Regions from separate parts of the Homo sapiens genome. Here all the other regions are linked to region 2. Evidence: fine-mapped expression QTL. A gene starts in region 2. Each other region holds a variant in brackets. All regions are shown on one strand. Distances are from middle to middle. Region 1 overlaps CHIT1 (chitinase 1). Region 2 holds the start of CHI3L1 (chitinase 3 like 1). Region 3 has its middle 5.3 kb from the start of ADORA1.

The links.
Region 1: its variant is fine-mapped to the expression of CHI3L1 in whole blood (TOPMed, PIP above 0.99).
Region 3: its variant is fine-mapped to the expression of CHI3L1 in whole blood (TOPMed, PIP above 0.99).

Annotation. Positions count from the first base shown.
Region 1 is chr1:203,211,487-203,221,637 of GRCh38, reverse strand. It overlaps CHIT1 (chitinase 1), which reads left to right. Exons shown (of 11, transcript NM_003465.3): 8 at 1,789-1,974; 9 at 2,309-2,422; 10 at 3,773-3,899; 11 at 4,505-5,559. The coding sequence ends at 4,749. It overlaps LOC124904485 (a long non-coding RNA gene), which reads left to right and starts at 8,151. Exons shown (of 2, transcript XR_007066797.1): 1 at 8,151-8,485; 2 at 8,593-8,815. RefSeq lists enhancers at 4,038-4,793, 4,794-5,549, 5,550-6,306. The variant G/C (reference allele first, on the strand shown) is at 4,100.
Region 2 is chr1:203,181,901-203,192,051 of GRCh38, reverse strand. It overlaps CHI3L1 (chitinase 3 like 1), which reads left to right and starts at 5,348. Exons shown (of 10, transcript NM_001276.4): 1 at 5,348-5,453; 2 at 5,707-5,736; 3 at 6,667-6,868; 4 at 7,420-7,476; 5 at 8,261-8,411; 6 at 9,200-9,321. The coding sequence starts at 5,429.
Region 3 is chr1:203,117,319-203,127,469 of GRCh38, reverse strand. No RefSeq gene overlaps it. Among named protein-coding and RNA genes, the nearest start is that of ADORA1, 5.3 kb to the left of the region's middle. RefSeq lists an enhancer at 1-20. The variant G/A (reference allele first, on the strand shown) is at 5,622.

The DNA of each region.
Region 1 (10,151 bases), 30 kb before region 2:
TATATATTTATTCTTAAGAGACAGAATCTTGTTCTGTCACCAAGGAGGGTATGCAGTGGCATGATCATAGCTCACTGCAGCTTCATCCTCCCAGGCTTAAGCGATCCTCCTGCCCCAGCCTCCTGAGTAACTGGGATCACTATGACCAGCTAATTTTTTTTAAGTTTGTAGAGATGGAGTCTTGCTATATTGCCCAGGATGGTCTCAAACTCCTGCCCTCAATCAATCCTCCTGGCTCAGCCTCCCAAAGTGTTGGAATTATAGGCACAAGCCAACATGCCCAGCCTAGATCCTTTTTATAAGCCCTCTATATATCTTAAAATATAGAGAGGGTTTATAAAACCCTGCAGAGAGGGCTTATAATAACTACATTATTTTTCTTTCTTAAAACAAGCAAAACCAAACAACAAAGAAAAAGCCCTAAATTAAAATGCTTTTTACTTTTGGAGAGCCCACATCTCTGTATGTCAGCTGGAGTGGGACATCTTTGATTTTCTGGCTCTTTCATGAATAAAGAGCACCTCTTTGAGCCAGTGAGCCAGGCACCCACATTTCACACTGAGCCTGGCCTCTCCATCCCTGTCTGGAAGACTGTGTGAGTTTTGGAGGAAGCTGTATCCCTGTGCTGGTGGGGAGACACAGAAAGAAATTTAGCTGAGAGGTGAGTGGGGTGGGAGTCCCTCCAGCACCCTGCTTTCCACATTGTGTACCTTGAATCCACCGAGGAATGGAGGCCATCTTATTCCTACAAAGAGGCCTTCTACTCACCACACAGTGTGCCCGGGGACAGGTTCTAACCAGATGGGTGACTTTTCCCAACTTGCACAAAAGTGCTATAACAGATCAGGAGAAGCCCCGACTTCTGCCTTCAGAAAGCACCCATCTGATCAAAGATAAGTTGTATAGATGGACAAAAAGAAATATATTTAAATAAATGTAGTGAAAGCTGTTCTTTACCTAAGTGCTAAGTGGGCTCAGAGTAACTAGACCTGACAAAACTAGGGCAGCTTCTGGGGGAAAGTGAACCATACTCTTGGCTTAAGGAATGAGGCTTCATTATTCATTAATTTATCATACTTGTACCGGGTACCTTCTCCCGTCACAGGCCTGGGGGTGTTACACCAAGTAATATATAATCAGGGGAAGGCCTTATTCAAAGGTGGGTAAGGAAGCCTTTGTTCTATCTGAGCATCAGGTGTCATTCTAGACACTGAGGATACAGAGATAAATAAAGCAGACCCAATTCCCTGCTTTTGTACTCAGGGTAAAACTAAGACAACAATCATGATAACGATGATGACCACAGCGACCCTTTATTGCGTTGTGCTGACCTTTTACATGCATTATAACCTTTAATTCTCACAATGCCCTAAGAGATGGATATTTTCCTTATTTCCATGTTACAGACAGAACACCAAGGTTCAGTGAGGTTAAATAAGCTGCTGGGTAAGGCAGGGATCTGTGTCTGCCTTGTTCACTGATGTGTCTGAAGCACCATGGACAGCGCCTGGCACACAGTGGGCCATCAGTACACATTTGTTCAGTGAATGGTTGTCTGCGTCCGAAGCCCACGCTCTCTGGTTATCATGCCATGCAGCTTCTTCACTGGGGTCACGGGTCTAAGGCAGGCTCTAAAGAAGATGGGGTAGGGCTGGAATCCTAACAAAGGCCCGTAGAGCTCCAGCTGAGGAGCCCCTGCCCTCCTAGCTCTGCCTCTGGATCCCCCAGACTTAGATAATCAGAACCAGGCTGAGGGCTGAGAAAATTAACCCTGCCCTCTTCCACCAGGATGCTGCTGTGCAACAGTGGCTGCAGAAGGGGACCCCTGCCAGCAAGCTGATCCTTGGCATGCCTACCTACGGACGCTCCTTCACACTGGCCTCCTCATCAGACACCAGAGTGGGGGCCCCAGCCACAGGGTCTGGCACTCCAGGCCCCTTCACCAAGGAAGGAGGGATGCTGGCCTACTATGAAGTAGGAAAACCCATAACCACCCTGGGTATTGTGAGGGTCAGGGGGTGCCTGAGAGAACAGAGGTTTCCTTCTCCCACCGTTTCTGAGTAAGGATGCCAATTGCAGAGAATTCTGGCCATGTAAATTCCATCTCATCCATGCCATCTTGAATTTATCCTTAAGCCCAGGTGCCTCAAGCTGAGTCCAGAATTCTAGGTCACTGCAAAGAACCTCCTGATTCTCCAGGCTTCCTCAGACAGGAATTTTCCAATCTCTAGTCTCCTCCTGGTGAGGAAGGGAAGGTGCCTGCAAGAGCCTCCCTCCTCCTCCCCAGTGCTGCCTTCTGCTCCCACAGGTCTGCTCCTGGAAGGGGGCCACCAAACAGAGAATCCAGGATCAGAAGGTGCCCTACATCTTCCGGGACAACCAGTGGGTGGGCTTTGATGATGTGGAGAGCTTCAAAACCAAGGTGAGGCCCAGCTCTGCTGGCAGAGGGGTGGTCCTAGTGAACAAGTCCTGTCAATGACATGGAATGAGGACAGTTCAGGACCTCAAGGGTGAGTCTCCTTTAAATGTCCCAACATTTCATAAATCTCCACGTGATAGTATTTTGTACCTTTACTACCTATTGACTCAGAAAAGACAAAATGACAAAAAATTGCTCTACATTTAGTAGCACTCTGGAAAGTATTTCTATTTTATTAAATACCATACAAATTCTACAGACATATGAAGAGGAGAAATACACATGGTGAGACATATAGCTTTCTTCAGCCCATTGGCAATATCTGGTGCATGTCCAAATTACAGACCTTTTGCTTTACTTATAGGACCCCCTTCTCCTGCCCAATATTGGTGCATTTACCTGGTTTCATGCCATTTTCCCCTGTGAAACTGTTAGCTCCTGAAGACGGATGCTTCACTAGTTTATCTGTACATCCCACATCAACTATCATGTGTGGCTGACAGCGGCAGCTTCTAGAGGTGGACAATTGCAGGGGGGCACGATCCTGGCTGGGGAGATGGGAGAAGGGGTCACGGTGGAAGGGTATTTCAGATAAGTCCTAAAGCATAGAAGGTGGCCATTCTTAGGGGTGAGGGAGCGGGCAACTGCACAAGCAAAGACGCGGGTGCAGAGAAAGTAAAGGCTGGACTCTGAAAACAAAGTGTAGGCCCACATAGCTGGACCCCCAAGCAGGGCAGGTAGAGGAAGGGAGCTAGCTGAAAGGGAGGCTGGGGCCAGCAAGGGATCAAGCACCATGGCCCCCTGGCAGGGTTAGAGGACAGAGAATCCCACTCTGAGGGAACACACAGTCATACCCTCAGGAAGCCTCAGGAATCTGGTGGAGGGAAGATGGCTCTCAGGGAAGACAAAGACATGAAGACAGAGAAGCAAGCCTTGATTGAGATCTTTTGGAAATCTGAGTTGTTCCCTATGGTAACTGGACTTACCTTGACCTTGACCTTGACCAGCATACAATACCCTTAAATAAAGCAGCTCAGCCCACACATGACCAAGCGGTGAAGGGTTCCCACTTAGGGAGGTGCACACAACTGACACTATTCCTCCCGACTGCACCCACCCCACCCCAGGTCATGCTTACGTTAAGACAAGGAGACTGCAAAATGACTGATGTCCAAGCAGCATGAGGACTCAGCATCCAGGCTCCCAGCCCAAGGCTGTCTCCAGAATCTACAGCCACTCACAGGCCTGAGGCTGCTGGAGCAAAAAGGGCCCTGTCCAGAAGAGGTAGCCAGGCTCTGGGGTGGCCGGGTCAGGCTTCCCCGGGCTCCTCCACTGCATCCCCTCCCTGCACAGGTCAGCTATCTGAAGCAGAAGGGACTGGGCGGGGCCATGGTCTGGGCACTGGACTTAGATGACTTTGCCGGCTTCTCCTGCAACCAGGGCCGATACCCCCTCATCCAGACGCTACGGCAGGAACTGAGTAAGTAAGGGGCCCAGGGCCAGTGGTGGAATTTGGAGGTGGGGTACAAACACAGCTCCATGCATCCAATGAACTGTAGGTCCCGGGTCCTTCTGAGGAAATGACTTTGCCCCAATACTGTAATTTCCCAAGCTTCATGTACCCGCAGGAGCTAAGGAAACTGTCAAAACAATTTTCCTTTTTGCGGTCTTTCTCTTCCT[G/C]GTTGTAGCAATGCCTGCCCAGGGTTGTTGTAACCGTGGCTTCCCTCCAGAGGGCCCCCAGACTGGGAGCAGCACCTTGTTCCTCTCTTACCTGGGAGAAAGCCTCCCCTTAGCCTGCAGCGTGGCACCCCCACCTGCCCTCAGCAGTATATGGTTGTGCTTGCAGATGGGTAAAGCCTTAACTGCCTGTCACATGTGAGGCCAGGTGTTGCCTGTGGCACTGTGCTTCAGCTGTAGGTATGGCTGTTGTCTGGCTGTTCTCTGCCTGGGGTATCTGGCTGTACTCAGCCTGTAGGGCATGTGGTGCTGGGCTGCTGCCAGCCAATGGTTGCTGCCTGTGTGCTCTGCCTGTGGGTTTGGGATCTCTTCGGGGGAGCCTTGGTTGAATCTTCACTGTCTTCCCAGGTCTTCCATACTTGCCTTCAGGCACCCCAGAGCTTGAAGTTCCAAAACCAGGTCAGCCCTCTGAACCTGAGCATGGCCCCAGCCCTGGACAAGACACGTTCTGCCAGGGCAAAGCTGATGGGCTCTATCCCAATCCTCGGGAACGGTCCAGCTTCTACAGCTGTGCAGCGGGGCGGCTGTTCCAGCAAAGCTGCCCGACAGGCCTGGTGTTCAGCAACTCCTGCAAATGCTGCACCTGGAATTGAGTCGCTAAAGCCCCTCCAGTCCCAGCTTTGAGGCTGGGCCCAGGATCACTCTACAGCCTGCCTCCTGGGTTTTCCCTGGGGGCCGCAATCTGGCTCCTGCAGGCCTTTCTGTGGTCTTCCTTTATCCAGGCTTTCTGCTCTCAGCCTTGCCTTCCTTTTTTCTGGGTCTCCTGGGCTGCCCCTTTCACTTGCAAAATAAATCTTTGGTTTGTGCCCCTCTTCCCAAAGATGTGGTGACTTAAGAGGCTCTCTAAGCACACTGTTGACTCCAAAACATCCGCAGGTCAGAGCCAGGTGGGAAGGTGGTCCGTGCAGGATGTGCCAGGCCCTGTGGCAGGTCTTGCCCCATGAGTCCATATGCCAGTGGGCAGTTTCCAGTACACAGGTGATGGCAGCCAGAGCGCGGCCCCAAGTGCAACACGTTCTTTGGTTATTGGCTCAGAAGCCTGGAAACAGGAGCTTCTGCGGACCTTCACGCACGTGTTATTCCCAAAATGCCACTAGATGGCAGCAGAGAAGAACTTTTCCCTGATTTAAGCGCTCTGCGAGCAGCCACTCAGCATTACACTAAGAATTCAGACCCCTGGTACTCAGGGGTCTTCGAGATAAATCCTGTTTGGGCCCTTTGCAGGCCCTATCTCACCTACTGCCCCCGTTCACCAGATGAAGAAGGAACAATGATTATTCTCACTTTATAGGCATTTAAACTGAAGACTGATTCTAACCAATTCTGAGTCCAGAACCAAGGCCTGAAATGGGCCAGAGAGCATGCACACGGTGTCCTGGTTAAATAAAGTCATCCCAACATTCCTGGCTGCTTTGGGCTGCACCTTGGTCATTCTGTTTGAAGAAAATCTGCACAAAGCCTAATGGTCCAGCCTGTTATTCACTCCAAGCTGGTTTCTGGTTGGGACTTGGGAAGGCAGCTGGGGACTGGGACAGGTGAGATGAGGGGGAGGCAGCTTGGCCCCCCATGTGAGTCAACCCAGCACCAGAGCGCAGGAACAGTGTCCCCGTCACTCCGGCAGCCTGCCTGTCCATGGGCATTTTGAAACCTGCTCTCCTCAGTCCAGAGCACAAGCTGCTTGAGCACGTGCTCCGCCCCCTGAGGTCTCAATTGAGGGATACACCAACCACATCCCAACGAGCTGTTAGGAGTGGAGTCCAGGTGCAGGGGTGACTTCTGGCGTGCTGCACTCCAGCTGTGTGACTTCAGGCAAAGAAGCAGAGCCTCAGTCCTCTGCTGTAGGATGGAAGAAATGTGAGGAGTCAGTGAAGTCGTGCACGCCTGCCCTATGATCAGTGCTCATTCCCTCCCTCCCTCTTCCCTTCTCAGCCCTTTCTTCAACTTCTGTGAGCTGGGTTTGTCAAGGATTTAGCAAAAACTGTAGTCTCCTTTTAGCAGAATGCGCCCTCCTACAAGCATCCAAATAACCAAAGTCCTCCCTGAGTACGCAGTCTTACACCTGCACTACTGTTACCCTCAGGAAAGCATTAGCCACAGCCTCTCTCTGGTCTTCACATCCACCCTGCTCCTCTACAAACTCATGGCCACTCCCTCAGCTAGAACCAGCATCATCTCATATCTGGACCCACCTTCTATCTGGCCTCCCTGCTTCCTGCCCACCCCCTCTTCCAGTCAGCCACCACATCGCAACCAGTTTAATCTTTCTAAAATAGAGATCTAAGCCTGTCAGTTCCCCTGCTTAAAAACTAAGCAAGGGAAGTGACAGGCTTCCCCTGCCCAAAGGAGAAAGTCCCCACCCATCAGCACAGGGTTGAGACACTTTATCAGGCCCTCGTGTCTTCTCCGGTCACTTCTCCTGCCGTCCCCACCCCAGTTCAGTTGCTGGGTACCCCTGATGTCAGCATTAACCTCAACCATCATGCCAGCTCCTCATGTGGGACTCCCACAGCCCTCTGTCACCCGGCTAGCTCAGGCCCACGCCATTTTCTGAATGAATCCTGTCTAGGACAGAAACAATGAGAGTTCTCGAAAAGCTATTTGTGTTCAGATTATCTCTTTTTGTTTGTTTTTGTTTTGTTTTGTTTTTTGTTTGTTTGTTTGGTTTTTGTTTTTTGGGTTTTGGTTTTTTTCTTTTTTTTTGAGACAGAGTCTCGCTCTGTTGCCCAGGTTGGAGTGCAGTGGCGTGATCTCGGCTTACTACAACCTCCACCTCCTGGGCTCAAGCGATTCTCCTGCTTCAGCCTCCCGAGGAGCTGGGACTACAGGCACCTGCCACCACACCAGGCTAATTTTTGTATTTTTAGTAGAGACGGGGTTGCTGTTGTTTGCTTGAGACAAGGTCTCTCTCTGTCACCCAGGCTGGAGTGCAGAGGCACGATCACAGCTCACTGCAGCCTTGACCTCCTGGGCTCAGCTGATCCTCCCACCTCAGCCTCCCAGGTAGCTGGGACTACAGGTACACACCACCATGCCCTGCTAAATTTTGTATTTTATGTAGAGGCAGGGTTTTGTCATGTTACACAGGCTGGTCTCCAACTCCTGGGCTCAAGTGATCCTCCTGCCTTGGCCTCCCAAACTGTTGGGATTACAGGTGTAAGCCATTGTTCCCAGCCAGATTGTCTCCTTTGACTCCACCTTGGCCTTGAAGCCCCATGTGGCTGGAGTCTTCCTGCTGCTGCTGAGTTTCTCAGCACACACCAAGTGTCCATGCAGGCCTGGTGTCCAGCTGGACACAGCAGGGACAAGAGCCGGGGCTTTACTTTCCTGAGGCTAACATTCTGTTGGGGGAGGCAGACAGTGAACAAACGTGCACATAAGACCTTTCCAGGCAATAATGAGTGCTGAAAGGAAACAAGATATGGCTAGAGAGTGAAGGATGGCGGTGAGGGGACTGCTGTGCACAGTGTGGTCACAGAAGGCTCAGTAGAGGCCACATTTGAGATGAGATCCCAAGTCAAAGGAAGATTTGCCCATGCACTTTTGAGATCCACAGTCCTCAGGGGTAAATCTGGGTGCAATTCTTCCCTGGCTGCCTTTGTTAACCCAGCTTATAGGACATGGTCCTGCCTTGGTCCCCTCTTCTAAATGTCCCCAAGAGGCCCTGCCTTGGCCCCATTTCTCCCCTGGCACAGGTGCCTCGTGTAGGCCCTTAGTCTGATGGCGGTGATCATGGCCCCATGGACAAGTCCTCCAGAGCAATGACTGCTCCCCTATCCTTTATGTCAACTGTCACCTCAATCCCCACTTGCCTGGTGGCCTTTTAGTTAATACCGACTGAGGTTAGGGCTCCCGGCCACTGCCCCAACCTGTGGACTGTACCTTCAGAGTCAACCTTTGGTGACTGCCCCAGCCTCTGTCATGCCCTTATGCCCAGTGCATGGTCCACGTGCATGGTCCAGTACAACATCCTCCCTCTCCTCTGCCCCAGGTTGCTGCTAGGAAAGCACCCTTGGTGTCCCATATCCAGTGTGGTGACCTGTATCCCAGGGGACCATCGGGAGTCTCCAAACAAGCCATGCCTTCCTCCAGCGCATCTCCACCTGTGCTTCACTTCTGCCTGTGCCATCCCTCCTTTCCCCACCGGGCCACTGCCAGTCACCCTGAGACAGTCAGCTCCTGGGTTACTCTTGCAGGAAACATCCTCGGGTGCCCTGGACATCAGTGACTGCCTCCCTGCCACACTAGACCACTGGGCCACCACACTGACATATGCTGCCACCGTGATCTGTGTGGATGTTAGACTCCTCCCCTAGGTTCCGAGCTCCTAAGGTCAAGCACAATGTCTTAAGTGGTCCTCTCCAATCATGACACATGTTTGAGGCTCAGTAAATATTGAACCATGTAATTTCTGACTTTTTTTCTTCTTTTACCCTCAGGTGCAGAAATCACTTAGAGGATTTCCAGACTGAAGTGCTATTTCATGACAAGAGCACTACTCTCCCAAGCCCTTCTATTGAATACCACTGACTCTTTTAATATTAGTGTCCAGCCATTAGTCCTTCCTTCAAAGAGACAGGGGAATTAACATTCGTTGCATGACCAGAGACCATACTAAGCATGTATTAGACATCCAATAAATAGTTACTGAATGAATAGTAAGTGAATTAACCTGTGTCGTTTAATCCTCACGGTACCCCTGCAAAGGACGTGTCATTTTCTGTTTCCCTTGGGTTACACAAGCAGTATGTGGCAAAGCTGCAATTAATTAGCTGATTAATTAATTATTGAGACAGAGTCACTCTGTCACCCAGGCTGGAGTGCAGTGGTGCAATCTTGGCTCACTGCAGCCTCCGTCTCCTGGGTTCAAGTGATTCTCGTCCCTCAGCCTCCCAAGTAGCTGGGATTAAAGGCGCATGTCACCACACCCAGCTAAATTTTTTGGTATTTTTAGTAGAGATGGGGTTTCACTATGTTGGCCAGGCTGGTCTCGAACTCCTGACCTCAAGTGATCTGCCCACCTCAGCTTCCCAAAGTGCTGGGATTACAGGCGTGAGCCACCACGCCTGGCCTAAAACTGCAATTTAGATGCCAGTCTAGATGAGACCCAGAGCCCAGGTTTGCTTTCTAGAACACTGCTGTCTTTCCTCCCCCAGGTTAAAATCATATGTATTTCTTTTATCTCCTTACCCTGCTATTTGGTGTCTAGACCTCAGAGGTTATGAGTATTGGGCACTTCTTCTGTGTCCAGCCATACACTAATATTCAGGTCCATTTATCTCTGCTGTCAATCCCATGGGATCACAGGTGCAGAAACCACGGTGTCCAAGTCAAGCCGGCAGTGGAGTCAGGGCCTGACCCAGGCCCACCCATGTCTTTGGTTGCTCTCCCCAGTGCACCCTCCTTCATGCCTCAGCTCTTGTCCTCTACAATATCTGATTTTATGGTTTACCTAAGTATGAAATCTTAATGATGCTTAAAACAATAAGCATTGCCTGAGCACTTGCCATGTGGCAGGAGCTGTGCTAGGGCCTAAGGGAAATGCAGAAATGAACCCTGCCCTCATGGTGTTTCCAGCTGGTGGGACTGTTGGTGGGGGGTCTCCAGGATCAGCTTAGCACCAAGGGTCAAAAGATCAACCCAGTTGGTGCAGTGGCTCACGCCTGTAATCCCAGCACTTTGGGAGGCTGAGGCGGGCAGATCACGAGGTCAGGAGTTCAAGATCAGCCTTACCAACATGGTGAAACCTTGTCTCTACTAAAAACACAAAAATTAGCTGGGCATGGTGGCAGGCACCTGTAATCCCAGCTACTCAGGAAGCTGAGGCAGGAGAATCGCTTGAAACCGGGAGGCGGAGGTTGCAGTGAGCCGAGACTGCACCACTGCACGCTCCAGCCTGGGTGATAGAGTGAGACTCCATCTCAAAAACAAAACAAAACAAAACAAAAAATCAACCCAGAGAGAAGGTACAGGTACTTCATGACTGATGCTGTTTGGA
Region 2 (10,151 bases):
GAGTGAGAGAACAGAACAAGCACAGTTTATGTTTTCTCCTCTTACCCATGCTTTTACAAGTTCCTTTACTTTTTATGATCAAATATCCTATGTTATACATTTGAGGGGGAAAATTGGAACCAAATTAATATAGCTTATTCACTTCTAGATAGAATGAATGTTTATGATCATGTTATTTATATAGATCCAATGAGAATCTGTCCTTTTTCTTACCAGAAAATAATTGGATACTGACCATGCCAAAATTCCATTTAATTAGGTATGTGTTAAAGAAAAAAATTATCCAATGCCACTTGTTGAAGTATGTAAGGATGTCTTTATCCAAGATCATTATGACAGGTACAGGAACCAGGGCAATGGGGTCTTGCAGTTGGGGGGAGAGATTGGGCTCAACTCTAAATACAGCATGGGCAAGTGGAAATCAGTAGCTAAGGACCAGGGGGTCTGTAGACAGAAGTTACTAAGAGGAAACAGGAGTAAGGGGGATTCTGGCTAAACAGACTTAACAGGATTCTTGCTGCAGACAGGCCAGGGTGGTCAGACATCCCCTGGGGCATGATAAAGGACAAGGAACCTGGTCAGATGTCAAGGTATTCAGATGTTGAGGGTAGGGGGTTCTTGCTAAATTGACTTAGCAGGGCTCTTTGCTAAAACTGGATTTTACAAGGAAGTGCACAGATGGGCCTAGGAGAAGATTCAGAAGCCCGCCTGAAATTTGGCCAAGCAAAGAATTTTTGTTATATGATAAGCCACTATTAAGGAATAAAGACTACATTTTACATGTGGAAATGACACCTATGAAGTCCTCTAGAAAACTCTGGTATGGCTTTAGAACTGATGACATTGCAGCCTTAGAGGTAGTAAAATAAATAAATAAATAAATAAATAAATAAATAAATAAAACCTACATTTCCTGGCAGTCTAGGAATATTAACACATATGGGAATCTTAGAGAAAATGGTGCTGATATAATACTTCACACATAAAAGTAATTTCTTCCCAGCCCTAGGGGCTTTACAAAGCCTCCAGACAGAAGCTCACTGTAAAGCATCACTATCATGTGGCTCTGGTTTCGCTAGCCATACAAAAAGAAAGTATTTATTTCATCAACACCTCCTGTTATGTCAATAGAAATAAATTTTGGTCAAATAAAACAAAATATCAATTTGATGATGCTGCATCAGGAAGTTATTAAGCAACATATACGGTTCAACCCATGCCTCAATGGCAAGGACTTGCCCACAAGGAAGGAAAATCCGTAGACGCAAAGCCCAACTCTTCACTCTACTGGCTTCATTCATGACCAAGTACCACTGCGGGGTGGGGATGGGAATAATTTGCATCTGGAGATAAGCCAAGAATAATAGGTTATCCTGAGTGGTTTAAGACACCAAAATAATAAGCCTTGGCTATTTCCCATAAATTTGGATTCCCAGCTGGGTGTGGTTGCACACGCCATTGATCCCAACACTTTGGGAGGCTGAGGCAGGAGGATGGCTTGAGCCCAGAAGGTCGAAGCTGCAGTGAGCCCAGATCACGCCACTGCACTCCAGCCTGGGTGACAGAGTGAGACTCTGTCTCAAAAAGAAAAAAAATTCCCCGAAAAAAACAATTTCATCCCTGATTTTTGCTATGCTGATAAGTGAAGATGTGTTGTAAAAATGATGCTGATCTCCACCAAACGTGATAACCTTGGGTCATTTTTTTTTCCCCTTCAAATACTTGTTGCATTTTGCATTTGACGAGCCAGCCATTCTGAAATCTGACTCGCTTCCGCTTTTCACAAGCAACTGTTTTCTTCTCTAAGTGTTTCTGCCTCTGAGTCTTCGACAGCTTCTACTGTGCGCCAGCACCACCACCGAGCTGAGGATTTGGAGATGATTTGAATTCCTGCCTGGCAGAAGTCCACCCTCTGGAGGAAGAGACTACTTGTAAAAGAGAGAATTCTCCTCAAGCATTTGGTGGGGCATCAACACCACCTCTGTTTGCTCTGACACGCCATGCAAAATGAAGGAATCCTCAAAACCACTGTGCCCAAGGGGCCAGCCCAGGCTCCCAGGAGCTTGTTTTCTGAATGGTGGTAATGTCCACCCTCTGGCTCCTGATCCAGACTCATCTTGTGCCTCCCTCGAGCTCCCTCCTGCTAATTCCATGCCTCAACCACTCTTGAATTCTTCTGGTTCCTGAACATAACAACCTCTTCCTGCTCCAGGTTTTTGCACAATTTTTTTTGTGTGTAGGGGACGGTGGGCAAGGGGCAGACTAACACCTGCCCTTCCTTCGTAATACATTACTTGCTTTTCTTTGTTTAATGTCCATCTTCTTTGCCAGACTGTATGCTTCATGAGGACAGGGACTGCCTCTCTGTTCCCATTCACCTTTCTGTCTCTACTGTCTACCTCAGTGGAAGGCAACTACTCTAGTACACTTACTTAATAAACATTGGTTGAACACTATCAATGTACTGTGGGGCCTAGAAATGTTTGATTAGGGAAATTAAGTCAGGAAGCTTGTTTTGTGGTTTTATGGCACCTCCTGAGTCAGTTCTTCACAGGGTAACAAAAACTATTGAATGAGATGAAATTTTGAGAACATCAGGGTTTAAACTCATAAGAGTGTGAAGTTATGCACCATTTTGAGATCATTTGTTCATTTATTCAACGAGTACTTTACTGAGCATCTACTATGTCTCAAGCACTGGGGATAGATACAAAGGTGGATAAAATGACCCAGCCGTTGCCTTTACTGAGTTTATAGTCTAGTGAGAGAGGCAAACAAAACATCCACTGCCACACACAACATATAAAATTATAACTGAGTCAGGTGTTAAGGAGAGAGGTACAAAGTGCTCTGACAGCCCTATAGCGGGTTTTCTGTCACCTGGAGACTGCCTTTTCTGCAGACAAGGTGACTCCTGAGCTGCAATCTGAAGGATGAGGAAGAATAAAGCAGTCAAAGAAGAGCAGTGTTAGGCTGCAATTCTCCATCCGCAATTCTCCAACCGCAATTCTCCATGGGTTGCCTGCATTTCCTGCACAGCTTATGTGCAGAGGCACTGGCTTCTTTGTTCTAGGCAATCTTTTTAGTGATGTTTGTACAGCAAACAGCCTTGGAAGATAGAAATAGCGTCCCCCCTCCAGACCAAAAGGCAGATTTGTTTACTGTCCAGTAATAAAGATAATGTCTCCCTTATCTTGGGCTGGCCAAGGTGAGGAAGGCTTACTGCTCATCATGAAAGATTTGAGTTCCTTAAACTAGGGATTCCTCTGCTGTGATGTAACTCATTGCATTCATGGCATCTACCTGGGCTCCTCCAACACTGCCCTTGTGAGACCTGAGGGCTAAGGGGAACTGACCCTAACATGAAGTTCATGCTGCTTGCTGTACCATGGATAATAAAGTCCTTTGTCTCTGACCTAGGAGTCTCGTGTCTTCTGCCAACATCCACGAAACTGTAGTTATGTCATTAATTTGCAAGTAGCATAAAATCTCAGATCTTTCATCGTTATTTACAGGCAAGTGGATGTCATATATAAAGGCCCTGTGGCGGGAGTCAGTAGAGCAAATATAAGGATTTAAAAGAAGACATATAAGCATGAGTGGAATATAGGGAGGGTGGGGGTCATGGCCTGAGATAAGGCTGGGAGGTGGTGAGCCTATGAGACCCTTGGCCAATCCTGCTAACACAGGCCTGGGGGTATCTTGGCCATTTGTTGTTACAAAGCTGCCTTCAGGCAGAGCATGTGGAATTAATAAACTGAGCTTGAGGGAGCATAGGACAACAAGGCTTGGGCCAATCTAAGCCTATGAAATAATTTTTAACAAAGGGAGATAGTGAAAATAGGAGGTGTTTTCTTAACATCCTGTGCTCTGTGATGAAAAATTTTGCATCTGCATGCCACTTCATAATATCACTATTAGAAATTAGAAGTCCTCCTCTCAGTGCCCCAAATGAACCAGAAGAAGCTATCATTGACTGTCATTGCTGTCAATCATCTTGGGTACAAAAGGAGGCAGTCATCTTAAAAAGGAAAAGTGATGCCTCTTTAGTATTCACCGAGCGTGATTCTGGACAAGCCACTTTTTGTCCACCTCTCTTACAATGAAGGGAAGGCACTGGCTGAGTTTTAAAGGAAGAGAAAGGGAGAGAGGGAGAGAAGAGGGAGAGAGCAGAGAGACCTCACCGAGAGAGCTGCAAAACCAGCCTGGAAAAATTAGAGTATTACCTAACATTAGTGAAAAATAAAGGTACTTTCTTGAGAAGCCCTTGGACCCATTCTGCCTCTTGGAGTTCTGAACTTTTCACTCACTGCCTATTAATTAATGTTAAGCCTGCAAAGAATGGAGTTGTCCTGGATATTTGGCCAAAAAAAAAATGTATCCACAAACAGGGACGTAATCAGGCAGGGAGCCTCGTTAAGAAGTTTTGTTCTTGTCCTAGGAGTGATGAGAGATCACTGAAGGATTTAGAGAGGGGCTGTATCATCAGGCTTGGGTTCCAAAGCCTCACTGAGAGAGTTGGGGAGCTGACTGATGTCAGATGCTCGTGCAGCCGCCCCGTAGGGCCTGTATTTCCTCCATGGTGCCTCACTGCAGCACCGAGCTTGCAAAAGATCCTCTCTCTTTATGGGAATTTCAAAACAGAAGCAAAATAGCACCGGGGCTTAAAGCATTCTTGGGAATTTCCCTGTCTTTCCCTCTAAATAATCAGCATGTAAATTGCAAAAAAAAAAAAAAAAAAAAAAAAAAAGACACGGGCCCAAAAGGGAGCGCTCAGTTTCAGGCTCTTTGCTTTCCTTCCTCCCGAGGCTCTCTGGCCCTTACCCAGCCTGAAGACAGAAAGTGTGAGGGGGAGGGTAGGAAGGTAGGTCAAGCAGGGCAATGCTGAGCCTGGGAAGAAAACAACAGCCTTGTTTAGGGCACTGTGGCTTACGTAACTAAATTGTGCCCAGTTTCCACCTGGCCAGGGGCCTGGAGTGAATGCTGAAGATGCAAAGGTAGAGGCTGCCAGAAAAGCCAGGAAATTGCTGGCAAGAAAGGCCAGTGGTGGGGTGCAGGAGTGGGAGGAAGGCTGGGAAATGCGGCTGAGTCACATCTCCAGAAGCCCCCCATCATCACCCTAGTGGCTCTTCTGCTGGCAGGTGCCTCATGAAGACCTGACCCAAAGTTTTCAAAACTCTGCGGTTTCTCAACCCTCCTCTGGTAATCCATAGTACTCCCCCGCCTCCACTTGCCAGCCTCGTGATTCCTTCATTGACACATAGCTCAGTTCCCATAAAAGGGCTGGTTTGCCGCGTCGGGGAGTGGAGTGGGACAGGTATATAAAGGAAGTACAGGGCCTGGGGAAGAGGCCCTGTCTAGGTAGCTGGCACCAGGAGCCGTGGGCAAGGGAAGAGGCCACACCCTGCCCTGCTCTGCTGCAGCCAGAATGGGTGTGAAGGCGTCTCAAACAGGTATCTGGGCTAGCCAAGGTTAATCCATCAGAGTTGTGGGTTTTCAGGCCCAGACAGCCCGCAGAGCCATCTGCCTGCTGGGTGAGGGACTAAGGGAGTGGGCAGAGGGGGAGGAGAAGCAGAGCCAGGGGAGGGACTGAGGCTGCAACCAGGAGGTGGGGGTGGGGGAGGTGGGTCTCAGTTGCTTGGGGGAGGGAGCAGGGCGGAAGGGCAGGATGCACTTGCAGGGGTCTCATCCTGGATTTCTCTTCAGGCTTTGTGGTCCTGGTGCTGCTCCAGTGCTGTGAGTAATCCCTCCACCTCCACTTTTAAGTCCAGAGGCGTGGCGAGGGCACAGGGCAGGTGTGGAGGAGGTCTTAGCTCCAAGGGAACACTTTGCCAGGTTCTTCTGTGCTTCCAATGACTTCGAAATAGTCACGTTTGCTAAACTGGAGTGAGGAGTATATGGATGTTTATTTTGCTATACTCTTTGGTATATGTGAAAATTCTCAAAATAAGAAACTTTAAAAGGTCCTGGTTCAGTGAAGGCTTTGACTAACAGCCCCTGGGAGCCGCTAGTACAGTTGCCCAGTAGCTGCTTGGATGAGTGATGCCCACATTGTTTGCAGCAGGAGAAACAGAATTAGAGGCGAGGAAGGATTTCCTGGTCCATTGTGATATTGTGCCCCAGCCTGGGGGACATGCCGAGGGAGCACAGGACTGCCATTCCGGGTGGGTTACAAGTTAGAGGCACTCTCACCAGGAGGCAGAGAAAGGTGGGCCAGAGTCCCTCATGGATGAAGGACCTCACTGCAGGTCACTAAAGGTGCCAGCCTGAAAGCCAGGGCCATCTGTGACACAGGCTATCTTGGGCCTTCCCCTCCCACAAAGCCACTGCTTCCAGGAAGCCTGCTGTGCTGGCACCAAGTCCCATTTCATCCTTATTCCCCAGCTCCTACCCTTCCCCCACACAGTGCCTGTAGCGTATTCATCCCCTGCATTGGATCTTTTCTAAGCATTTTCAGAATAGGCCTTATTTTCACCAGTCAGGGAACTCCCCAGAGGCAGGGGGACCTGAACCAGCTCCTTTCATTTAAGAATTCTGACTTTGCTCACAATCTGCACCCCACTCCTCCCTACCCAACCCCACACCCCATTGGTGCTCAGCTCTGGGCTCAGCCTGAGGTCTCTTGCCGAATCCTGGCCCGGGCCCCATCCCAGACTTCTCCTTCAGGCTCTGCATACAAACTGGTCTGCTACTACACCAGCTGGTCCCAGTACCGGGAAGGCGATGGGAGCTGCTTCCCAGATGCCCTTGACCGCTTCCTCTGTACCCACATCATCTACAGCTTTGCCAATATAAGCAACGATCACATCGACACCTGGGAGTGGAATGATGTGACGCTCTACGGCATGCTCAACACACTCAAGAACAGGTTGGGCCAGGGCTGGCCAGGAGAGGAGGGACCAGCTGGGCTGGTCCCAGGGCAGGGCAACCCCACCCAGGAGGAAGGGCGAGGCCCCACCCTGCTCACCTATGTTTGGAGAGTTAGAGGGGCTTGGCTTAAATGGGTGGAGGGGATGACTGTAGGTGCTGGGCAATATTTGGGGTGATGAGAGACTGTAGACGGAAGCGCAGCTGAGCCCCTCTGGGAGAGGGGAACCCTCTCCTGCCCCTAACGTGCTCTCCAGGGAGCATGGAAAATGAGCAAGACTCTACTTTGCCATACTCTGTCTTCTCCACTGGGGAAAACAAAAATGGGCAGCAGACCTCAGAGTAACTCCCATGAAGCCTGTGACCCCTCAGAGATCCACCACTATGAATCTCTATGGGATTCCCATGATGTCCTATGGGAGGACATCAGCGGCCTAACCCAGCCTCTCACCCAAAGCAGGAAACCTTCTATGGCCTCTCAGACATGGGGCCACCCAGTGTCATGACAATGTCATTCCACTCCTGCCCTCCCCACCTCCCTGTGCTCCACAGGAACCCCAACCTGAAGACTCTCTTGTCTGTCGGAGGATGGAACTTTGGGTCTCAAAGGTAGGAGCCTCTCCCCAGGGGCAGGACGGCAGAGGATGATGGCATAGGAGTGAGGAGCTTGGGTCTCCCGCATCCACTGTATGGATGTTCCAGGGGCTCCAGACTAGATAGGTACAAGGCCTACCTGTTTGTCAAGGGCCTGCCTGATGTGTAGCAAAGAAAGCAGAGCCCAGAGAGAGAGCAGGACTTGCCAAGAGTCACACAGCAAGTTAACAGTGGATCTCCCAATTCCCTGCCAATGCTCTATTTACTACCTCACAGGCCCGAAAATATGGGACTTCTGGGGCTACCACCATTAGGGCTGGAAAGAGAGAGATGGAAACCAATGGGGACATTGAGAAGTGGGGAGACCCTGGGAGGAGTCTTTGGATTAGGTGGGGTTGGAGCAGGGCTTGAAATGGGGGTGGTTATGGCCATCGTTGGCACCCATGTGCTGGGTACTCTTTCTGTGTCCAGCACCCTGTCTCCCCATGATCCCATGTTGTCCTCACAACAGCAAGGTGAGCTGTTATATTTGTCCCCATTTTACAGATGATGAAACTGAGACTCAGGTTATAACCTTTCACAGTGGCTGGCTAGTAAGTGATAGAGCCAGACTTGGAAACCTGGAATGCCTGGCTCTAAGGCACATGCATGCCTGGAGGCGACCCCTGTCCCAATCATGCCCTCCCAGAGCTGTGTGGCCTCAGGATCCCAGCTCTGCAGGTCCTGGAAACCCCACCAGAGGCCCAAGGCACCTAGCATATCAGTGCTGAGCATGCTACAGGGCTGATTTTGGTCCTAGATTTTCCAAGATAGCCTCCAACACCCAGAGTCGCCGGACTTTCATCAAGTCAGTACCGCCATTTCTGCGCACCCATGGCTTTGATGGGCTGGACCTTGCCTGGCTCTACCCTGGACGGAGAGACAAACAGCATTTTACCACCCTAATCAAGGTGCTGGTCAGGTCAGGGACAGGGAGGGAGGTGGGCAGGCATGAGGGAATGGGGTGGGCTAGAAGCCGGCGTCAGCTGCTGTCCTCCTGAGGACAGGTAAAGAGGGACTTCAGCCTCAGGGCAGTGTCCTGGGACCCTGTGCCCTGAAGATCTCACATAGCAAGGAAGGCTTCTTGTGACCATGGTGGGAGGTGGGAATGGGGTTCTAAGAGGTGGAAGGTTGTGACTGAGCAGAGCACCCACTTATAACTACCCACTTAGTGCATTGCCCATTGCCCACCCTTCAATCCCATACTGATGCCACCCATACCCAGCATGCACTGTGTCCAGCAGCTCTCAGCTCTGCCTGGGGGCAGCCTAAGTATCTCCAGTTACCAGGGGCAGAAGGAGAGTCTAAACAAATTGTTCACAATACCAGCAGCAATCACTTTAACTTTGGGATTTCATGCACCAGCTAGAACAAAGCACAGACCGAAAGGCAAATGTCTCCCAAAGTCATCTGTGGGCCAATAGGGGTCACCCACTGTCCGATGCTCCCTCCAGGACAGGGAGTAATTGAGTGCTGATGGGTGTGCATGGGTTTGGGGAGAAGATTAGTCAGTTTTTTAGGAAAAGGATGGGTGACTTGAGGATGGGACCACTGATGAGCCACTTTATCACTTCCACTAGGCCCCAGGCAGGTTGGGGAGTACAGCAAATGGGTTGCGCAGAGACCTAGTCCGCCCTCGATGAGTCTACCTCTCATGCCACTTGGGACCCTTTCTCTCACCTGCCTGTCTCCCATCTAGGAAATGAAGGCCGAATTTATAAAGGAAGCCCAGCCAGGGAAAAAGCAGCTCCTGCTCAGCGCAGCACTGTCTGCGGGGAAGGTCACCATTGACAGCAGCTATGACATTGCCAAGATATCCCAGTGAGTCTCCTGCCCCAGGCAGCCTCCCCAGAACCTCTGCCAACACTCCTGTTTCCCCGCCACCCCCAGCCCTAGCACTCCATGTAGACTGAGGACACTGGGCTTCCAGTCCCAGTTCTTCCAAAGCCTTGATGTGTGACCTTGAGCAAGTCACTTCCCTGCCCTGTGCCTCAGTTTCCCCATCTGTCAAATGAGGCATAACAATCCTTGCCTTTCCTTTTTCACCTGGGCTGTTGGCTGAGCAGTTGAGAGAGCTGCTATGAAAGTATTTTGGAAAGGGAAGTGGAAAAAGCTATTCAAACCCTCCAGCTATTGCAGAGTATTTTCTCCACACCAGGCAGAGCAGAGTGCTGGGCCCTGGAGAGGCCACACAGCAGCCTCTTTCTAGAGTGCTGGGGAGTCCTCAAGGCTCTCTCATACACACAGGCCTCCCCCTTTCCTGTTGGCCCCACGCCTCATCCTCACCCCACCCCTCATGCCTGTGAGGAACAAGGAACAGCCAAGCAGCCTCATCTCTCCTGAGAGCAGAGCCATGGGTCTCGGGAAACCCAGGAGTAAGGAACAAAGACTCTTCAAAATGACTTCAGAGCTTTCTTTAGGATCCCAGGGAGGTGTAAACTCAGTGCTTAATTAAATGGATTCTTTAGAGGGTGGGAAACAGGTGGATGTCAACCATTTGCCCCACATACCCGTATTCATGCAATCCACCCCCAGTGGGCTCACCGGTGCGGGTGTGCAAAACCTCCTCCCACCCCAGTCATCTTAGGTTCAGGTCATCCTTTGGTCCTGCTCTTTCCCCGCCAGGCTGTCTGTTGATGCTACTTTTAATC
Region 3 (10,151 bases), 65 kb after region 2:
GGCCTCCAGCGACCCCTCACCCCTCACGGCACAGCATCTCTTCTGCAGGACTTCAGAATGCCCCCTCTGGGATCTCCCAAAGCAGTCGGTAGCCCTGGCACCCTCCCCCAATCCTAAAACCCTGCTCTCTCCATGAAACCAGTCCCTGCATCTTCTCATCCCATATTGTTTTGCAGGCTCTACCCTGAGTCATTATATTCCTTTCTCATCCATCTTTCAGAATTGCCTTTTAGTCTATTAGCAATTTCTATTTTGCAGATAAGGATGCTGAGGCTCAGGGAAGTGACCTAGCTTCCCAGGATCTCCTGGCAGTGTAACCCGCTCTGCGCTCCTTTTCCTTCCTCCTTCTTCCTCTTCATAGCACAGCGCTAAGCCATAAGGCATCCAGTCCAATCCCCTCATGTTACAGATAAAGAAGCAGGCTCAGGGAAGCAAGGGACTTCCGGAGGGTCACAGGGCAAATCCTAACAGGACCAAAATAAGAATCCCAGGCTCCTGACTCTCTCCACTGGGTCCAGACCCCTCCCCTGGCCACCTTCTGCCAGTTTCGGTTTAGGCAGTCCACTGATATTAACTAATGACCAGACCCTGGACATGGATGGATGCCTCGCAGAGATCCCAACCTGAGAAATCCTTGTTTGTGGGTATTGGGCAAGGGTTCTAGGAAGGCAAAGAGAGTCAGGCTGGGGACCCCAATGTTAGCTAGCCACAACCCAACCTGGCCTCTGGGGGTACTGCCCCCCTCACTGGATCTCAGAATGCAAGGAAAAGGGTTCTGCCCAGAGGAGGGTGGGCACGTTGCTCCCATTGGGGGCTGCACTGAATCACAGTGAGGAATGATGTGGGACCCGGAACCTGGGTAGCTGGGAGGCAGGGAGGAAGGGCAGTTGAGTCTTCTGAGGAGGAGGGGGAAGCCCTCTGTGGGGAAAAATAACTTCCATTTCTGCCTTTAGGGGGAGCAAGGAATCAGTGCCTCAGACAGCAAAATTACATTCCTTCCCTAGAAGCTAGTTGGAGAAATTAGGAAGTGTAAACTCTCCTTCCTCCTCGTCCCCTTGCACTTCCCCTGCTGACTTTGTCAACACGCCCAACAGCACCTGACGTCCTGCCTACTCCCCCTGCCACCCAGACATGCAGGCCTTTGCGACCATCCCCTGCCTCTCCACCCTTTGCTTGACTTAAGCCATTTTTGGCTCAAGGCTTTCTCTCTCAGTTTACACTCAGCTTCCCAATGGTCACTCAACTAGATGTCAGAAGAGACTGTGAAGACCCAGATGGGCCCAGCTTGGGGACGGGGATGGGTGAGTGGGGTCACCCTGTCTAACTATTGACAGCATCTTCAGCTCTGGAGGGCAACTGAGCACCCACCACCACCTCCCATACACATACACTCCCACCTCCGATTCATCTTACCACAGGTTGCTGACATGTAGTGGATGCATTTGCATAATGCCTGTAGGTAATTTGTTTCTCAGTTCTGGGCAAAATAAGCCAAAATCTTCTTCCCTTATCTTCTCCATCCTTCCACCCCTGCCTGTTCCCAGCCTCAGGGATTAGACCAGCCTATTTGACAACAGAACTGGCCAAGGCAGGGTCTATTCCAGAAAGCTGCCTTGGGGGAAGCACACGGTCTCCTCAGTCCTCTGGCTTGACACGGAGGTAGGAGGGTCGGTGCTGAGATCTCCTGGGCAGCAGGGTCATTTGGTGCGGTGAAAAGAGCACTTGACCGAGAGTCAGAAGAGCTGGAAGCTGGCTTCTAGGCTCTACTCTGCCACTCACTGGCTGCGTGACCTCAAGCAGGCCACTTTTCCTCTCCTGGCCTCAGTTTACCCATCCTACACCAACAGCTGGTAAGTCCATTCCAAGGTGCGAGAGATGGGCTGAGATGGAGACCACAGAACTTGGTCCTTCCCCCTGGAAGTCTTCTAACTCCCAGCTCCCCTGTGAGGCACAGAGAGCAGGGCTGAGAGAAGGGGAAGTTTGTGATGGAGGCGAGTAGAGGAAGAGGCAAGGTCACAGATCTATAACGAGGAAAGGACAATGAGGGAGGCTGTAGGCAGAACAGATGGAGCCAAGGTGTCTGGAATGTATCCTGAGTCAAAACTCTCTGGCTTTCACAGTGTGTCCAGGACCCTTAGACAAGATGACCCTCCCCACACCAGGGTCCCCTCACACACTGCAGCCATGCAACCCTCCAAGCTTCACCTGCCTTCAAAAGCTGAGCCTTGGTTTCCCCACCTGTAACAGCAGTGTAGGAATACCCCTCGGTGTAGGATGGTTATGAGAACATAATGAGCTGGCTTTTGGAAAGCGTCCAGCACTGATATTTTATCAAAAAGGCAAGTAGGCAGCACCAGGCCAGTGAAGCGTGGGGGTGGAAAGGGAAAGAGAATGCAAAATTATGAAATCTGCCCTGCACAGCCAGGGATGCTAATGTTGGTACCAAATCCCACAGGTACCAAGTTTAGGTGCCCTCCAAGATGCCCAATGCAAAGCTTCTATTTTCCATGTGACTCAGGGGGTGAGATAATGCCACAGTAAATGTAAAGATCGCCTGTGGTCCTTTTACCGCTTGATCCTACTTCTTTTCTTCCTAAGCCCCTGTCCTGGGTTTCTCCACTGGCCCCTTGCACCTGCAGCCTCCCCACTGTGGGCAGAGGTGGGTGGGGAAGAGGGAGGGCTGAAGGGGAAGCACTCCTGGGTGAGGGGAACCTTGCTGAGCAGCCCTGCTCTTTTCTCCCTGGAACTCTCCAAATTGGGCTATACTCCTCAGGTCAGAAAGGGCTGCCCAAGGAGGCTGAAGTATCCCAGCACACCCCTCCAGAGCCCAGGAAGGAAGGCAAGGAGTACTGGCTGTTAAGGCTTGGCTCAGCCCTGTGGGGAGAGCTTGGGGATTGGAGGGGGTTTCAGAATTTTTCTCTGTCCTTTCCAGCAGGCAGAAGGATATTTTGGTCCCTGTCTTGTTTTTTCAGCATTGCTCTGGCCAGTGTGTGCACAAGGAGGAGAACTGTTGGATAAGAGCAGGCATTTGGGACAAAAAGATTTCTGGGTGTCAGGAAAGCCCTTAGCCCTTCCCCCAAGGGGCCCATAACCATGCCTGTCTGCCCCTGCAGTGACTTCCTGGAAGTTCCCTTCCTCTCCTTTTCTACCACCCTCCTTCTGCTCAGATTTGCACCCTGGGTCTCTGCCTCCTTCTCCCTCCCTCCTTCCAGCTCACTTCTTCCCAGTCAGGGCTTCTCTGTGCCAGATACTGGGCCCACGGGAAGAACACAGGCTGCGTGTTTCCCTGTGTGTTTGTGAGGCGGTGGGGAGGCATGGGGTAGGTCAAGGCCATCTAGTTCCCGTTCCTCCAGACAGCATGGAACTGTTCCTACCTCCTAAAGCAAGGTTGTCCTTCGCATTTCTTTCCTAATCTCATCATCATTCATTCATTTATTCTGTTGGGTAAACATTTCTTGAGCCCCTTTTGTGTATCAGACAGTGAGCTGAGCATCGTGGGTAGAGGCATAAAAAAGCCATAGTCTCTCCTGCAGGCTCCAGAGAGAGTTCACACTCAGGTAAGGAAGGCATGAAGGGCCCCAATACACAATCCCTCCAGTGAGAATCAGAACATGTTTCCTGGGTCTTGATACACTGAGGACCCCTTAGGGCTCCACAGAGGAGCCTCGGGACCTCCAAGGCTGGGAAGGAGGGTCAGGTCTTGGGGGCTCAGGGAGCCACCCTGTTTTAGATGAAGCAGCTCTGGTTATTTCATGTATGGGTTCCTGGTATAAGACTTTCTTTGAACATTGTGGCTCTTAAAAAAAAAACAAGTGAACATCTGAGCTTCAATCCAACCTCTCCAGATAAGGAAACTGAGACCCAGAGAAGGAATGAACTTAGCCATACCCATCCAGCAGTGAGGGGCAGGGCTTGGTACCCAGGAGGGTCCTGGAGGTGAGCATCATTTTGAGCCCTGGTCCCACCTACCCTTCAGGGAATCCCTTGAGAATCCCTCAAGCATCAGCCCTTTAATCTTAGAACTTGATGAAGTGAGGGTTCTGGGCTTTCACACCCTCGCCACCTTACAGCAGAGGGAGGCAGTGTTAGGTGGACACACCTGTATATAATTATAAAAGCCCCTCACGGGTGCACAAAAGTTTAGTGTTTATAAAAGAATTCCCTTCAAGCTCATTCTTCTTGGTATAATAAAAATACAGAAATTCTCACAGACAGTATCCCATTGAATGCTCACTATACACCAGGGAGATAGCAAAGCAGGTGTTATTAGTCCCTGGTCACAGATGAGAGAGGTTCAAGGGAAGCCACATGGCAGAGCTAACACTAGAACCTGGACCGTCCGAGGACTGAGCCAGGTTTGATGTGTGGCTTTTTGTTTGTTTGTTTGATTGTTTTGTTTTGTTTGTTTGAGACAGAGTCTCACTCTGCCACCCAAGGTGGAGTGCAGTGACGCGATCTCAGCTCACTGCAACCTCTGCCTCCTGAGTTCAAGTGATTCTCCTGCCTCAGCCTCCCAAGTAGCTGGGATTACAGGCGCCTGCCACCATGTCCAGCTAATTTTTGCATTTTTAGGAAAGAAGGGTTTTCACCATGTTGGTCAGGCTGGTCTCAAACTGCTAACCTCGTGATCTGCCCGCCTCGGCCTCCCAAAGTGCTGGGATTACAGGTGTGAGCCACTGCACCCAGCCGTGTGATGCATTTTACCCATGAAGGTGTATGTGACGCTCGGGAGGTGATTGGAACTGCTGGGCCAATTGGTCTGAAAGGGCCTCCTCAAGGAGGAGAATCTTGGGCAGCCCCATCCACCATTTGTTTCTTTGGCATTTGTGAAGGGCCTATTATGAAGACACCCCCCAAGAGCTGCAAGCATGGGGACTGGAGGCCCGGCTGTGTCAATCCCTGCTCAGAATCAGCTGGAGCTCCTGGTGGTGTGTTCCAGGGGTCCCAGACAAGGGAGGAGCATACTCCCTTGCTGGCAGGGGCTGGGAAGGATTCTGGAGAAAGCAACACATAGCCTGGGCCTTGAAGGAGGCACCGGATGCTTTGTGCTTGCAGAGATGGGCTAGTGGCCTGGAGGAGGACTTTGTGGGCAGAAAGTGAATGAGCAGCCTGAGCAAGGGGCATGGGAAACTGCCCAGTGTGTTCTGGGCAAGACCAGGGGCTAAGCAGGGGCACTGGATCCAGGCTGGGCAGCAGGGTGACAACTAGGGGCTACATTGCTGAGGTCCCCAGGGCAGACTGAGAGGACTGTAGTGGGCGATGCACCCACTGAAAGGCCTCACCCACAGAAGGCCTCAGCCCCAGTCCCAGATCTGCTCTGTAGCACTGGGTGAAGCCTGACCACTCCCCATACCTCCCTGAGCCTCAGTTCTCTTATCCATAAAAGAAGAAGAATAACATTACCTCTTTGACTTTATGTGAAAGTGCTTTTTAGATTGTAGATCACTACACAAATATACAGTCTACTCTGTTGATAATGGGAAGCTTTTGAGGATTTTTGAGGATTTTCTGAAGGACCTGAAAGATGCTATAGGAAGATCATCCAAGACGCTGTGCAGAGGGGAGGAGGAGAGGGTGAGAGCAGGCAGAACTGCCAGGAAGCAATCATGGTCAAAGATGAC[G/A]AAAAGTTAAACCTAAGAGGAAGCAGTGGGAACAGAGATGAAGATGGACAGGAAAGATGTCTCGTGGGAGGACTTCCGGGCATAGTGGCTGGGGGACTGAGGAGGCAAAGATGACTCTATTTCAAGCTGAGTTCCCAGGGAAATGCTGAGGAGGATGAGGGAGATTTGACGGACAGGCTGGTTGGGGGGATGGGGGATGGGATACGAAGTCCACTCCTGGACAGGTTGGGCTGGCTGTGCCCATGGGAGGGGTCCAGCAGCCTTCTGGAAATGGCCAAAGGGTGATCGGAGCTGGAGCTGGGTCATCGCAATGGAGGTGACAGTCAAGGCCCTGGGAGAGATGAGGCCACCCAGGAGAGGATGCAGAGAATAGGCTGTGGAGAAGCTGGGCTGTGCCCACAGTAATCAAGAGGGAGGGCAGCCAAAGGGGAGGAGCAGGCTACCAGACATTTCAGGAAGCAGGGGTGCTGAGTGGTTCGGGGCTGAGGGCTGAAGGGCAGCTATGATAGGTCTGAGGGGGATGTGGTGGATTTCATGAAAAGAAGGGTGTGGAGACCTCAAAGAAGCTTCAGGGGATGGGGGAGTAGGAGTGCCTCTCAAAGGTTGACGCTGCAGCAGGTAAGCAAGGTAGAGGCCGTGGGTGCAGATGAGTCTAGTTTGAAAGAACTTGGCAGGGATGAGAACAAAAGATGGATGGTGAGCTGCAGGAGAGAGGGGTCAAAAAGAGGTTGGTTTTAGATGGGGAGCTCTGAGCATGCTTACAGTCTGAGGGAGGGAAGCAGTGGCAAGGAAGAGATGAATCAGAGGGAAACGAAGCTGAGCACAGACCCCAAGGAGCTAAGCAGTTAATGACAGCTGGCTGGGCACAGAGCTCTGGATGTCCCCAGACCTGGAAGTATCTAGCTCTTCACCAGCTCCAAGCCCTCCCCCACTGCCACTGGGTCCTAAGGAGAGGCTCCCAGGTCTTCAACCCCAACCCAGCCCTTCCCTGAAGCCCCTCCACCCCCCCACCTGACACAAGGCCAGCAGTTGGCCAGCCATGCTGCAGCTCCATTAAAGACTCAGCCTTCTCCCAGCACCAGCTCCTCTTCATCTGACAGCCTGTGGCCCAGCCCCTACCCCTAACCCTAGCCCACGGGGCACCAGTCACAGATTTCTTGGCTTCTCTGCCCCTGTCTGCGGCCAAAGAGGTGCCTCTGGGCAATCCGCCTGCCACCCCACCACTGTCTGGGAGATCCACCATGTGACTCATAAGCGCTCATGCTGTCCTGTGCAGCCCACCCCATCCCAGCCAGCAAATGCACCCCACCTTCCTGGACTCCTCCGACAGCACCTCCAAGGGTTCAAAGGCAAGCAATCCTCTGTTTCCCCTCCCCTCACTAGGCAGAAGGGGAAATTGAGGCAGGGGAGATGATGATATCTGTTGGAGGTGAGGCAGCCTGGTATCTGACTCCCTAATCGCTCCCTTATTCCTCCCCACCCATCAAGAGGTGTCCTTGTCCCTCAAGAAAGACAAATACCCCCACTATCTTCTATATGTTCCAAAAGGGAGAAGAAGGCTGTCAAGACTAGAGAAAAGAAGGAAGGAGGGGCAGAAGTGAAGCTGCCAGACTAAATTCAGGACACCCAATTAAAAACTTTTAACAGCTTTATTGAGATACAATTTACATAATATAAAGTTCACCCATTTAAGGTGCACAATTCAGTGGTTTGAGTTACTTATGGAATTGTACAACCATCACCATCATTTAATTTTAGAACATTTTCATCACCTTTCCTCCAAAAAAACTTTGCACCCATCAGTAGTCACTTCCCAACCCTTCCCTCCACCACCCATCCCTAGCAACCACTAATTTACTTTCTGCCTCCATGGATTTGCCTATTCAGGACATTTCATATAAATGGAATCATATGATACATAGGATACATGGTCCTTTGTGACTGGCTTCTTTCACTTACCATAATGTTTTCAAGGTTCATCTGAACTGTGGCATGTATCCATACTTCATTCCTTTTTAAGGCTGAATAGTATTCCATCCTGTGGACAAGCCACATTTTGTTTATCCGTTCTTCAGTTGATGGACATTTAGCTTGTTTCCACTTTTAGGTTATTGTGAATAATGCTGCTATGAACATTCGTGTACATGTTTTTTTATTTTATTTTTTTTTTGAGACGAAGTTTCACTCTTGTTGCCTAGGCTAGAGTGCAATGGTGTGATCTCGGCTCACTGCAACCTCCGCCTCCCAGGTTCAAGCGATTCTCCTGCCTGAGCCTCCTGAGTAGCTGGGATTACAGGTGTGAGCCACCACACCTGGCTAATTTTTTGTATTTCTAGTAGAGACGGGGTTTCACGATGTTGGCCAGCCTGGCCTCAAACTCCTGACCTCAGGTGATCCACCCACCTCAGCCTTCCAAAGTGCTGGGATTACAGGCGTGAGCCACCACACCTGGCCCACGTACAGGTTTTTGTGTGAGGATGTGTTTTCATTTTTCTAGGGTAGATACAGACAGAAGAAAAGGCAGAACACATGTCTGGCCCTTTCTCACATTTATCCCCTGTATCATCACCCCACCTGGGTGGGAAGCTATTATGCTCCCCTTTGCCAGATTAAAACACTGAGGCTCAAGGAGAGGCCTGAAACCACTGAGTGCTGGAGCTGAAACGTGAGCTCAGGCCTCCTGATTTCCACTCCAAGGTTCTTTCCAGTTCATCACAATAGCCCACTCAGAGAGTCTGCAGCCCACTGAGGGAACGAAACAGAAGGAACTGAAAAGCAACATCTTCCACGTGAACCATCACCTCATCCTTCTGAAGTCCTAACTAGGTGCTTCATGGACCATGTCCTGGGGTGTAAGGGCTGAGACTGAAGCCAGAGGCTTCATGGAAGGAACGAGTTTTTGCTCCACTCAGTAAAAAGCTAACTGGGATGAAATGGCCCCTGTCCTCAGCCAGTATCCCTGGGTCCCCTGAGAGCCTGCAGGAGAGCCCACCATGTACACATTCTCATAGTTATTTCTCTGAGTGAAGCCCCTCCCAGCAGCGATGGAAGCCAGGTGTGGAAACACTAGGCATTCACTCATTATACTCAGGAATCAGAACTGGTCACAGAGGCTTGGCCACTGATTCCGGCTTCAGCCCATTCCCTCAGCTCCAGTCTTATCCTGGCCCCAACTCCCTGATGTTAAGCAGAACTCAAAGTGCTAGTCTAGAATCATTCCCTTCAGATCTGCCTCACCCCCTCTGCCCTGAACCCTGTCACCAGCGAGCACTGGGCATGGAAGGAAGGGAATTTGCGCTAAGTGCACGTTCCTCAGGTCGGGATAAAGAGGTAGTGGATGGCCTGGGCTCCCTGGTCCTCTGTGGGCTCATCCCAAAGTCCTACCTTCCACACCAGAAAAGCAAACAGCAGCTTGCTAGAGGGGTCCACTCTACAGTTAAAAGCCACTCACTCCATCTGGCTCGTCAAGTGGGGTGGGAGACACAGAGGAGCCCTTCACTTACTGAGCTTTTCTATTTCAATCACTATCCCCGGCCCGAGTTGGACAGACTTCATCCAGGGCTTAAAATAGCTCCCGGGGCATAGAGCTCAAGAAACATTGACTGAATGTTCAATGTTCAAAATAATACACTTCAAGAGTACAAGAAGGAAGTCTCACAACGCTTTATGGTTTAGAATTATTTAACTATCATAGCATTGCCGGTGAAATAAGTATAATCATTTTCCCATTTCTCAGAGGAGGAAACTGAGGCTGGGGGGAGGGAGGTGGGGAAGGTGGATCGGCTGAGCAGCGGGATCTAGAGCCAGAAGCAGCCGCCCAGCTCAGGGCTGTTGTCCGGGGCTCGGGGTCCCCCTGCTGGCCTAACGGAAGCCTGGGCGTGGGCGAGGAGCTGGGCAGGGCCAGACCCCAGTCCCGCAGCCTGAGTTCCCTGCTCCGCCGCGCTAGGTGCTGGGTTCCCGCGGAAGGGAGAAGAAGGAGGAGCCATAGCTGGGCTCAGCATTATAGCGCCTGGCGGAGCACTGCGCAAGGCTTCAGCTGAGATGCTTCACCCGACATCATGGGCCAGAACAGACGAAACAGGCAGCGCCTCAGCTCCCCACCTGCCCGAGCCTCTCCTGAGCTCACCTGCAGAAAGGCCAAAAGGGACGGCGCCTAAGAAGGCCCAGCAGACCCGCTCCCTTGGAGGGAAGAGACAGATTCGCTCTCCTGACGTCCAGTCCAAAGTGCTTTGTTCCCATAGCATTGTCTCCTCCCGTTTCCAGGCAAATCTAACCCAGCCCCAAGAGAACACTTCCCTCCTCTCTGGATCTTGTTGCCCAGGCTGGAATGCAATGGCGTGGTCTTGGCTCACTGCAACCTTCGCCTCCCGGGTTCAAGCGATTCTCCTGCCTCAGCCTCCCAAATAACTGGTATTACAGGTGCCTGCCACCACGCCTAGCTAATGTTCTATTTTTGGTAGAGACGGGGTTTCACCACGTTGGCCAGGCTGGTCTTGAACTCCTGACCTAAGGTGATCCACCCGCCTCGGC